2 separate regions of the Homo sapiens genome follow, and region 2 is linked to region 1. Evidence: fine-mapped expression QTL. A gene starts in region 1. The other region holds a variant in brackets. All regions are shown on one strand. Distances are from middle to middle.

Region 1 (2,895 bases):
AATGGGAGAGGGGGACTTCATGGACCCCAGAAGGCCATCCAGGGACCCTAGGCTAAAATCCCAGAACTCAGTGATCCTGTGGGAGTATCGTCAGACTTGGCCCTGCCCTATGCAAAGCCTCTCTCTTTAGTCTACAGCAGGTGAAAGCAAGCAGAATCATTGACCCAATCTGAAAAAGCCCATCCAACACTGGGCTGCAGGTCAGAGCAGGGGCCTGGGGAGGGGAGGTCCCTCCAGCTGGCCGGAGAGCCAGAGCTGGATTCTGGGAAAGCACCCCTGAGCAGCCTGCCCCTGACCCTGCCTAGTGTATCCCCATCTGCCCCGGGGAGGCAGGCGTGGGCTGCTCTGGGCAGGCGCCCAAACAGGCCACTGACCCCCGTCAGCCACCCAGGCTGGAGTTCCCGGACGCATCCTTCATCTTCCCCAATCTAAACACCCCCAGGCCCCAGGTGGTCCACCCCCCTCCCAGCCAATGTGTGTCTCAGCCGCATCCAGCTTGCTGGAGGACAGGGGGACTGGCCATCCCGTTAACACTTGAGCCGCTGCCATTTCCAGCCTTCCCTTCCATCCAACCAATGCTCACCCACCATTTATTGAGCACCAGTTGTTTGCAGGTGGCTGTGAATGACATGGCAGAGGGCCTGCCCTTCTCTTCCTCCAGGATCTCACCTCCTGGCCAGGGTCCCCTCCCCTGGTCCCACCCCTCTCACCTGGAGCAGGTGGGTGCTTTGGGGGAAGTGGGCTCAGGGCTGGGAACTGGGTACTGGCAGGAGATTCAGATCGGGGTTGGTGTCTGGGCATCGCTCTAAGCTTTTGTGATCCTGGGCCTGGCTCTTACTCTCTCTGGCTTCAGTCTCCTCATCTGTACTCTTCAGATTCCACGGTTCCAACTGAGTCTGAATCAGGCCTTGTCAGCACCCTCCCACCCCCAGGAATAGTTAGAGGAGGAAAGGAGGCTAGCTCTGAATGCTTCAAGATCTTTCTTTAGACAGTCTCTGGATCTTATTCATTCATTCAAGCATTTATTGAGCACCTATTCAGTGCCAGGCCCTGGACTGGGAGACTGGAAATAAAGATGACAAAGATTCAAGCCGGTGACTCCTAAACATCCCACTCCCTGCCTCACGCTCTGCTTGGGGTCAGAAGGCCCCTTGGGGTCTCGGGAGGGCCTGGCCGAGGATTTGGGGCGCCCCGAGACTCGCGTGTCAGCGCCGGTGGCGCTCAGGGCCGAGATCTGTCTCCTCCCCTTCCTCCTCCTCCGCCCCCTCCCCTCTCCCTCCCGGAGCACGGCCGAGGCCTCCTCCCACCCGCGAGATCCCGGCGGCCGCCAGCCGGCTCCTGCGTCCGTCCGTCGGCCGGGCAGTCTGTCCACGCGCGGAAAGCTCGGCGCGGCGGCCGAGGGGCCTGGGAGGGAACGGGCGCGGAGGCGGGACCGCGGCTCCCTCCCACTCCGGGGGGAGCCCAGGAGGCGGCGGTGCTGGAGCGCGAGCCGGAGCCGGAGCCGGAGACGAAGAGAGGCGGTGAGAACGCGGGTGCTTAGGGACCCCACCCCCGGCTCCCGCTGGGGGCCCGCGAGCGGCTCGGGGACGTCTGGGCTGGGGAAGCGGGGCTGTTACCCCCAGGGCGGGAGGCAGAGACGATCCAGCTCCTGGCTTCGCCCCCTCCGCGACGCGACCCCCGAGGGGCCCTGGGCCGCGCCTGCAGCGCCGCGCATCCCCGTGCTTCCCGGCGCACCCCAGCGCACCCGGCATCCCCCCGGCAGGGCGAGGGCCCCGGGGGAAGGGAAGGCTCCGGGAGCCAAGGAGGGCGCCCCCCAGGCGGAGAGTCTCGGAAAACCGCGCCCCCGGCCCCTGCCTTCCCTCCAGGCCTGCCCCAAGGGAAAGCGGGCGGGGCGACCCCGTACGCCCCCCTTGCTGTCCCCCTTCGGTTCCCCATTGTTCTCAGCCGAATGCTCTCCTGGGAAGGGGGGAGGGGGTGCTGCGCTCTCCTCTTAAAGGGCCCTCTCCCCTCTTGTCTCCTGGCAGGTCGCGAGCACGAGTGGGGTGGGGCGTGCCCACGGGCCCCCGCCCCCCTCGTCCCCCTCGTCCCCCAGCCCAGCTCCGGAGCCGCAGTCCAGGCGCGCCGCCCGAGGGTCCACGCCGCACCCCTCCCCCGTGCGTTCTGCGGCCACCCAGGCCTTCCAGGACACCGTGGAGAGGGAACAAGGGGGCAGGGACGCCCCCTTCGGCAGGAGCCGTCGGAGAAGGGGGCCCAGACCGGAGGGAGGCGAGAAGCCCCACTGAAGCCGGGCGCAGGGTCTGGGACGCAGTTGGGAGTGCAAAGGGCTGGCTGAGAGCCGCAGGAGCAGCAGGCTGTGGCCCAGGCCTCCTGGGTGACAGGCCCTGTCTGGCGGGGAAGAGGGACCAAGAGACAACACGGAAGAGGCTGGACCTCGAACAGGGGCGGCTGCCTCACTCCCTACCTGAGCCAGCCGAGGGGGCCAAGGACTTTAGAGCTGTTTCCTCCGGCATAAGAGAGACACTTGCTTTCCAGGGCAGCACCCTTTATCGGAGAAGGCTCTACAGGGAAGGGGTCTTTGCAGCCTGGATGGCCATCCCACATTCCTTTAACGGAGGTCTCTAGGCCTCAGAGAGAACCCAGAGTTAGAAAGGAGGCCAGACGGTCCTTGCTGTCCCCCTGGGGAGAGAGGAAGTTGCCGCCTGCTGCCAGGCCCAGGAGGAGCTGGGCCTGCAATAGTGGGGGACCTGGCCCCTGAGGCAGTGGCGGCCATGTCACGGCCAGGCCACGGTGGGCTGATGCCTGTGAATGGTCTGGGCTTCCCACCGCAGAACGTGGCCCGGGTGGTGGTGTGGGAGTGGCTGAATGAGCACAGCCGCTGGCGGCCCTACACGGCCA
Region 2 (2,895 bases), 21 kb after region 1:
GGACTGCATGGGGCCTATGTGCATGGCCTTGGTCTCTGTCTATGCCTGCCCCACTTTATCTGACTCTGGTCTGAAGAACCCCCAGGCCCCCTTTGCCCTCCCCCGCACCATCCAGGGCCTGTGATAACCCCCACTTCAGTGTCTGTCTTGGCCCTGGAGAGGTGGAGGGTGGGGGAGCCCTCCACACCTTGCTGGTTTCCTACCCCAGGCTATCTTGGCACCCCCACCCTGTTTGGTGGCTCTCCCGCCCCTACGCCCAATCTACTGACCACGCGCCCCTGCCCACCTCTCGCCCCAGTGCTATGCGCTGAACCTTTAGCCCCGGCCCCCCTCACCCTGGCTGCCGCCTGTCCTGACCCTCCAGCCTGTGCTGAACCTCATGCCTGGGCCTTGACCTCCTTCCTCTCCGTGCATGTGTTGACCCTCTCCCCAAGTCTGGGTGGACCCCCTGGAGGCCTGTGCTGACCCCCCAACCTCCCGCCCACCCTTGCCTGGCTGTGGCCCGCCCTTCCAGCCGCGCAGACCAACGCCCGCTGTGCTGACGCCTCCTCCCCATTTCGAGTACAGGCACCATGCGGCCCGTGCGGCGCAACTTCTACGACCCGTCGTCGGCGCCGGGCAAGGGCATCGTGTGGGAGTGGGAGAACGACGGCGGCGCATGGACGGCCTACGATATGGACATCTGCATCACCATCCAGAACGCCTACGAGAAGCAGCACCCGTGGCTCGACCTCTCATCGCTAGGCTTCTGCTACCTCATCTACTTCAACAGCATGTCGCAGATGAACCGCCAGACGCGCCGGCGCCGCCGCCTGCGCCGCCGCCTGGACCTCGCCTACCCGCTCACCGTGGGCTCCATCCCTAAGTCGCAGTCGTGGCCCGTGGGCGCCAGCTCGGGCCAGCCCTGCTCCTGCCAGCAGTGCCTGCTGGTCAACAGCACGCGCGCCGCCTCCAACGCCATCCTGGCCTCGCAGCGCCGCAAGGCGCCCCCCGCGCCCCCGCTGCCGCCGCCGCCGCCACCTGGAGGGCCTCCAGGCGCGCTTGCCGTGCGCCCCAGCGCCACCTTCACAGGCGCCGCGCTCTGGGCAGCGCCCGCCGCCGGCCCCGCCGAGCCCGCGCCGCCTCCCGGGGCGCCCCCACGGAGCCCGGGCGCCCCCGGCGGAGCGCGCACCCCGGGGCAGAACAACCTCAACCGGCCCGGGCCCCAGCGCACCACCAGCGTGAGCGCGCGCGCCTCCATCCCGCCGGGGTAAGACGGGGCCCAGGGGGAGGGGGCCTCTGCGTCGTCCGCAGGCAAGGACGAAGCCCGGGGGTGGTTGGCCACTAGGGCAGGAGCAAAGATTACAATAATAATAATGACGATAAGTAATATCCAGCATGCACTAAATGTTCATTTTGTGCCAAGCATCAACTAAGCACCTTTACATGTTCCCACACATCTATCTCCATGCATAAGGACCCTATGAGGTAGGTACCATCATCACCTCCAGTTCACAGATGAAGAACTAACTCCCCCAAGATCAGACAG[T/C]TCACAAGTGATGGGGCCATAATAGCAACATCAGCAATGGTGCGTGTTCCATGTTTATTATTTGCTAAACCCGTTATATGTATCACCTCGTTTATTCTGCCAAACAGTTCTACCATGTGCATATTATAGATGGGGAAACCGAGGCTAGGAGAGCTATGGTGCCTTCTCATTTATTCCACCAAACAGTTCTACCATGTGCATATTACAGATGGGGAAGCCAAGGCTGGGAAAGCTATGGTGCCTTCTCAGGGTCACCGGGGAAGGGTAGACATTGGAGTCCAGACCTGCCCAATTCCAAAGTCTGTGCTGTGTTGTCTTAGGATTTTTAGAGGGCTTCAGAGTCCATCTGTCCTTGTCCCAGTCCATGCCCACCTCACATGGTGGCTCGAGCAAGCATCAGCTGCTTGTCCAAAGTATTTCCCCATAGGCTGCACCTGAAATACCACAATTACTCTGGGTTAATACTATGGTTTGCACACTGGGCTCCAGGGACTCCCGGGGTGACCTGGAATCGTGGGGGGTGGGGTAATAGAAAGCCAGGCAAACGAGAGTCTGTCTCTCTGCTCTTGTTTTAACCAGAGCAGCCCTTTTTGGAAACACTTTTATGAACTGGCTTTCTCAGCATGATTTTATTAAGGATGGGCACCCAGCTTGTATCAAGTTTGCAAATTCTTGGGTTAAGGTGTCCCAGGCCCCAGGATAGGGACCCAGTGAGCTGCTGTTGGGTGCCTACCCTGGACTCCAGATTCAGTCATCTGAGCAAAGAACCAAGCCCTGAGGGGTGGCAATGAGAGGAAAGATCAAAGACCTTGAACTTGGGACAGACCAGAAGAGAAAAGACCAGGGGGGTTTGGACTGTGGTCCCCAAGAGGAAGAGAGGGCACCCAAAACCAACTGTGCTTCAATCACTATGGCATGGCCGGGGGAATTGATAATGATGGTCCGAGATCACCAAAGCTCAGATCTGGATGCGACCTTTGGGGTCACTGCATCCAGCTCACCCCTTTTATTATGGGCAAACAAGGCCTGGGAAAAGGAAAGGCCAGGACCCTGAACTAGGTGGCCCTATTCACCTTTTGTCCCTTTGGGAGTCTGACTTCCTGGGTTCGAATCCCCTCTTGGCCACTTCTCTTTTTTTTTTTTTTTTTTTTTTTTTTTTTTGAGATACAGTTTCACTCTGTTGCCCAGGCTGGAGTGCAGTGGCACAATCTCCACTGACTGCAACTTCTGCCTCCAGGGTTCAAGTGATTCTTCTGCCTCAGTCTTCTGAGTAGCTGGGACTACAGGTGCATGCCACCATTCCCGGCTACTGTGTGTGTGTGTGTGTGTGTGTGTGTGTGTGTGTGTGTGTGTTAGTGGAGATGGGA

What was found. PIP is the estimated chance that this variant, and not a neighbour inherited with it, causes the effect. A credible set is the group of variants that fine-mapping cannot tell apart.
Region 2: its variant is the best candidate, but not a certain one, in a credible set for the expression of DTX1 in subcutaneous fat (GTEx, PIP 0.86).

The regions. Positions count from the first base shown.
Region 1 is chr12:113,055,425-113,058,319 of GRCh38, forward strand. DTX1 (deltex E3 ubiquitin ligase 1) reads left to right here and starts at 1,306. Exons shown (of 10, transcript NM_004416.3): 1 at 1,306-1,520; 2 at 2,025-2,895. The coding sequence starts at 2,769. RefSeq lists an enhancer at 2,544-2,895.
Region 2 is chr12:113,076,857-113,079,751 of GRCh38, forward strand. It overlaps DTX1 (deltex E3 ubiquitin ligase 1), which reads left to right. Exons shown (of 10, transcript NM_004416.3): 3 at 568-1,249. Among named protein-coding and RNA genes, the nearest start is that of DTX1, 22 kb to the left of the region's middle. The variant T/C (reference allele first, on the strand shown) is at 1,529.